2 separate regions of the Homo sapiens genome follow, and region 1 is linked to region 2. Evidence: fine-mapped expression QTL. A gene starts in region 2. The other region holds a variant in brackets. All regions are shown on one strand. Distances are from middle to middle.

Region 1 (2,906 bases), 37 kb before region 2:
GGCTACACATCACTCAATAAAGTCTTCCACATGCATCACCTTTCAAACAGTTCATGTGACCTGATTCTTCCTGGACACCAGACAAGAACCCAGGTGCCAAGAGGGCAAGAACCTGGGTGCCAAGAGGACAGGGGCTGCCACTCTGACCCTCCACTGAGCTGGTTGGCACTTGACCATCCCTGGACAGCAGAGCTGAAAAAGCATTGGTTATACATGCTTGGAGCTGCTGTGGAGCCCCACAGAGCTTGCTCCTGCCAGAGAGGAGTGGCCGGCCATTCCAGCATCCATTTACTCCAGTTCCCGCACTTACTGTCTTGCATGCTTCCTCCTGTGAGGAGTGGCCAGCAGCTGGCTGAGTGAAACGGGCCACTCCAGTTCCTGCCCACAAAGGAGGTCAAGAGAACTATCCTGTCTCATCGAGACCCTGTCCACCCTCACCAAAAAAATAGCAAAGTATGAGAGGTGTAAGTATCTATGTGGGTTGATGGATCCACCAGGCCAGAGTGGCTGGGATGGGGGTGGGGAGAGAGCTCGTGGAAAGAGGGATGGCACCAGTGGTGGAGGCATCTGTCAGCCACCGAAGAATTTAGATTCACTCCTCATGAAATGAGAAGACCTGGAGAGTTTTGAACAGGGTGCCAAAGCTGATTCACCTGTTATAAAGTTCACTCTGGCTGCTGCGTTGAGAGCAGGTGGAAGCAGGGAGACTAGTCAGGGAGACCAGTGAGGAGACATTTATTTTCCAGGTCCCCAGGCACCATCTCTCACCAGCCATTTTCCTCTCTCCCTCTTCACTCCTGCGGTGATCTTCCTCCCCAGCCACTTCAGAAACAAGAATCGTCTTGTGCTCCCTCTGTCCTCATCCAAATGTGCTTTTAAATTCTTTCATCACACTATTCAACAACAGATACTCCTGTAAGCAGATTCATACCCAAGAAAAGCCAAGTGAAGAACAGCAGTTTCTAGAGTCTGCGTAGGGCAGTAGAAGAGGACTATTTTCTCCTCACTGGTTTAGTCAACACTTCTTCAGGTCTTACCCAAGTGTATTAGTTTTCTATTGTTGATAAACAACCACTAACTTGACCACTTAAAACACGTGCTGTATGTCAGCAGTCTAGGTATGGCAGGGTTGGGGTCTTCACTCAGGGTCTCAAGGACCAAAGGAAATCGTGGTGTTGGCCCAGCTGAGTTCTCATCTGAAGGCTCTGGGGAAAAGTCCGTTTCCAAGCTAATTCAGGCTGTGGGCCTAATTCAGTTCCCTGTGGTTATTAGACTGCTGTCAGGGGACTGCTCTCAGCTCCAGAGGCCACCGGCTTTGACTCCTTCACTAACATTTGGTCACATTTCACATCTTTCTGATTTTTCTATGCCTGATCTCTAGACTCAGTTTGAAGGCCTTGTGTAATTAAGCCAGATCTGCTTGGCTCATCTCCCTATCTTAAAGTCAATTTATTTGGGGTCTTAATTACAACTGCAAAGTCCCTTCACAGCAATACCAAGATTAGTGCTTGACTGAATAACTGGGAGAAGGTGCAATAGACCAGGGGCTGCGAATTATGAGCCATCCTAGAAATCTGCCTACTACACCAAGAAAAAGGGAGCACATTGACCCATCTGGGGAAGTGCCTGGAGTAGAAGAGCTGAAGGCGCGAGGCAGGCCTTGGGGGCTGGGACTAGGATTCAATGTGCCATGAGTCACTCATTCTCTCTCTCTC[T/TCA]CACACACACACACACACACACACACACACCACACACACACACACACACACACACCTTTCTCCATTCACCTCTCATCTCTGCTGGTCTTCATTCCGCAGAGTTGCTCCTCCCATGTAACAAGAAAGCCATGTGCCTGTAATCCCAGCTATTCAGGAGGCTGAGGCAGGAGAATAGCTTGAATCCGGGAGGCAGAAGTTGCAGTGAGCCAAGATGGTGCCATTGCACTCCAGCCTGGGGGACAGAGCGAGACTCCATCTCAAAAAAAAAAAAAGAAAAAAGAAAAAAGCCACCAACTGCCCTAGTTCCTGCTATCACAGTTTTGCTTTTCCAGTAAAAAGATAATGTCTTTCTCCTAATGCTTGAATATCAACCTAGAGAAAGAGTCTGATAGAGCCAGCTTGGGTCTGGGATGGGAAGTAGAGTGCTGAGATTGAGAGGCAGCTGGAAGAGGTGAAGAGTTGTCTAAAGGAGGCAGTAGGACGCATGTCAGGTAAGCAGATGCACAGAGCCACTGGGACCTCTTCAGCCGGAGCTGCTGCTTTTCCTCAAAGACCTTACAGCCCTTCTGCATCGCTCTCCTTCCTCTTCTGACCTGCTTAGTGGTCCTGCCTTCTCTAACCTTCAGGGGGCTGACATCTAGCTCTAACATCCACAAGATTAAGTCCAAACCTATAAACTTGGGGCCATGGGATGGGGCCAGGCATTGGAGAGAGAATGCCTTGCAGAATAATCTAGAAAGAATTCTGGACTAGATTTTAGTCCTTGCTCTGCTACTAACCGTGATCATGAACATGTTGCGGTGGCCATGGAGGTTGGCCGCTCAGACCTCCCTTAGAGAGAACCTGATGTGGGGAGTATAGTTGGGTGACAGCTTATACCTTTCACACCTTTGGATTTGCCGTGATATTCACAACAAAGCTTGATTTCCCCCTGCCGCTTACCAAGCTACTTCTAGCCAACTACTAAGTCCGCGGCCTTAGGTACCGCGGCCGGGCTATTTCTGCCCAACACAAAACTCCTTGAATGTTCGATCTTTGCTCAGGGATACTTTACTGGCCTGGCCAAGACCCTTTCATGGCTGTATCGCAGTCTGAGGGTTCTCCTATCCACCCACTTCCTTCCGTCTCCTTTCACATATGCAGACCTGCACCTCCATCAATAGGTGCACCCTGCCTACTCCTGTTCTCTCC
Region 2 (2,906 bases):
ATTTTAGATTCTTTGAAGATAGAGAAGATGCCTTGCACTGTGCCAAGTGCCTTTTCAGGTACTTGAATAAATACATGTTTTGGTTGATGTCACTATTTACATGAATGTAGGTTAGATCAATAGTACCAGCTATACATGTCAAGAACGCTAAGGGCTATCTCCAGTCTCTTTTTTCATTCCTTGACCAAAGAGAGCCCTGTTTGGAGACAGGCTCACGTGCAAAGAATGTGAAGTTAATGAGACAGGTGGGAGAAGGCGGCTAGTGTTCAATTCCAAGCCCCTGTGCTCTATTCCTCCTGGCAAAATAGTGAGGTTGGCGGGACAGGGGGAGGGGAATGTCTGTGATCCCACAAAAAAATGTGTGGGAAGTGAGAGGGAGATGGTGAGGAAAGAGAGCATGTTCCAGACGCTACAGGACAGACCTGGACCTGACCTCTCCCTGGCGGGCATGGCACCAGGAGTTTATTATGAGACCGAAAGGAAACCCCAAGGCAAACAGCTAAATTCATCCACTTGAAACCTTGTATAGGAGACAGTGAGGGATGTTGTTTTCCATCTAGACAAGGCACAGAGGGGAGTCTGTGACAAGGAGCTTCTAATTGGGGAGCTGCAGAGGGTTAACAAAGAGCACTGGTGGCATCTTTTTGCTGGTCTTCTTGAAAAAGACATAGTCTGGGAAGGTTCAATCAGAGCCCCCTGCACGAGGTAAGGAGGTGGGCTGGCTGACTTCCCTAGGTCCTTCCTAATCCCATAGTTATTTGGTGAATCGTGCTCTTCCCCATTTATGCTCCTACACACGTCTGCACCCAGTTTGATAGTAAGTCCCCTAGGCTGCATTCCAGGTTTAGTACGGTGCCACGCAAGCTGCTGGCACTCAACAAATGACGCAAATATTTGTTGAATGAAGGAATAAATGGATCAAGTGTTTAAATAGAGCCCACATGACCTCCCCAGCTGTAAAGTATGGCAGTTGAATGAAATCACAACATTCTAGGCACTTGAGCAAAGCTGGCGGGGACACACACACACACACGATTCACATTCCCACCTTGGAAAAGCACAGACCACCTGCCCAGCCAGCAGGCTGTGGGAGTTTCCTTGGCAAGGATCCTCTTTCTCTGCTGCTTTAGGATGGTGCCTCTAGAAGGTCAAGTCACCCAGATTTAGGACCGCTTCCCTTCCCGGTTGGCCTCCGAGACAAAGTTTCTGTCTGGATTTGGCCCGGGCCTCCCGGGAGGCGCATCCGCACTGACTCCCGGCTCGGGCGCCCCGGGCGTGCAGCTCGCTGGCCCGCTGCGCCCCACCTTACCTTGGTGAGCTGGGCGATCTTCTTGCACATTTTCACGTGCATCTGGGGATCACAGTCCATTCTCCAGCCGGCGCCACCGTCGGCTTTGGAGCCCTGGCAAGTGCCGGGCGGGTTAATTTTGCTGTTGAGAGCAGAAGCCATCGCTAAAACGCGCCCAGCACTCAGACTCTCTCGTTTTCTCCCTGCCCACCGTGTGCACGTGCGTGCGCGCGCGGGCGTGCGAGCGTGTGGGTTTCTCGGGAGAGGTGGCACTGCAGTCCCGTCGCCTGCACCGCCGCGTGGCCCCAGCTTCCCGAAGGTCTCCGCCTCCCGGGCCCACCCGCGCGCCCACCCTTTTTCCTCTCCTGCTGGTTCTCTGGCTGGCTGGCTCCGCGGGCACCCGCACCCTGCGGCGAGGCGTCGGCGCCCCGCACGTGCCGCTGGCGATCAGTCTGCAGTTCCCCAGCCAGTGCAGGTTTCGTGTGCAAGGGGAGAGCTTCCGCGGCTAGGAGCTGCCGGCCTTGGGGGGTTTGCGGTGGGCGGGCACTGCGCTCTTGGACACGTGGGTGGCGCGCGGCCCTGGACTTGGTGGCGACGGACCCTGCCCGAGGTGGGGATCCCAGGCTAAAGAGGAAGAAGAGCCTCCGGAGAGGGACAGGGCACAGTGACTGGCGGCCTCCGGAGAGGGACAGGGCACAGTGACTGGCGGCTCCCGAGTCTCCGAGCTGATAGCGGAGATGGCGGTGGGGGACGAGATGCTAAGAGAGGGGCGGGTAGGTGAGGGCGAGCCATCGGGACTCAAGGAGGTGTGGGATCCGGGGCGCACGGTGTGGGCCAGCGCCTGAGTTGCGCGAGTGCACAGCGGGGCTGGGGATGGTAGCCTTCCTTTTTGGATCTTGGAGAGGAGCCAGGACATTGCGGGAGGAATACCGGAGATGCCCAAAGAGGAGAAGCCAAGGGGATGGCAGGGTGCGGGTGACCGAAATCTGAGATGAGAAAGTGCGAAACGGGTAATGCGGGAAGCGGTAGGAACGCAAAGACAAAGTCGTTAGGGAGGTAGAAAGGATGGTGGCAGGTGCGGGAAAGGAAGAAGCAAAGAGGAATGGAGCAGTTAGATGAGTAAAAGATGGAACTGAAAATCTTAGCAAACCGAGCCCATTGAAAGTAAAGTGAGTCGTCCAAATCCACACTACTGGCCTTGGGCAGACTGGAGCCAGACTGTCAAGTTTTCGGATTCTGAGCTGGTGTCTGTTTAGTGTTTGGTGAGGGGAGAGGTTAGCGGGCCAAATTTCTTTCTGGCGTGTTCTCTGGTTTCAGACAGTGGACTTTAAGGGAAAGTGACAGCACCGTGATCAGCTTTTCCTAAAGCTCGAATAATAGGTCTTCATGATAGTTTGCATAGTGAATGTATATCATTTATACATTGCCTTTTATCAGAAATTTTAATAATCTTCATAAACCAAGCAAGCTTCAAAGGGTCTCAGAAACCACAGTTCCACCCATCCATACTGAAGGTAACAAAACCCATTTTTGTCGATGAGGAAAATTGACCCAGAAAATTTGTACCAAGTCAGGCAATTACAAGTAGAACTGTTTCTGAAATAGACATTCCTATTCT

Which allele goes with the higher level. Alleles are on the strand shown, and positions count from the first base shown. SD is a standard deviation of normalised expression in the study named.
In carriers of allele TCA in region 1, the expression in prefrontal cortex of the gene that starts at base 1,772 in region 2 tends to be lower than with T alone (small effect, 0.30 SD a copy in BrainSeq).

What was found. PIP is the estimated chance that this variant, and not a neighbour inherited with it, causes the effect.
Region 1: its variant is the best candidate, but not a certain one, in a credible set for the expression of FAM184B in prefrontal cortex (BrainSeq, PIP 0.72).

The regions. Positions count from the first base shown.
Region 1 is chr4:17,742,746-17,745,651 of GRCh38, forward strand. The region is part of intron 1 of FAM184B (family with sequence similarity 184 member B); the gene reads right to left. Among named protein-coding and RNA genes, the nearest start is that of FAM184B, 37 kb to the right of the region's middle. The variant T/TCA (reference allele first, on the strand shown) is at 1,716.
Region 2 is chr4:17,779,850-17,782,755 of GRCh38, forward strand. It overlaps FAM184B (family with sequence similarity 184 member B), which reads right to left and starts at 1,772. Exons shown (of 18, transcript NM_015688.2): 1 at 1,310-1,772. The coding sequence starts at 1,450.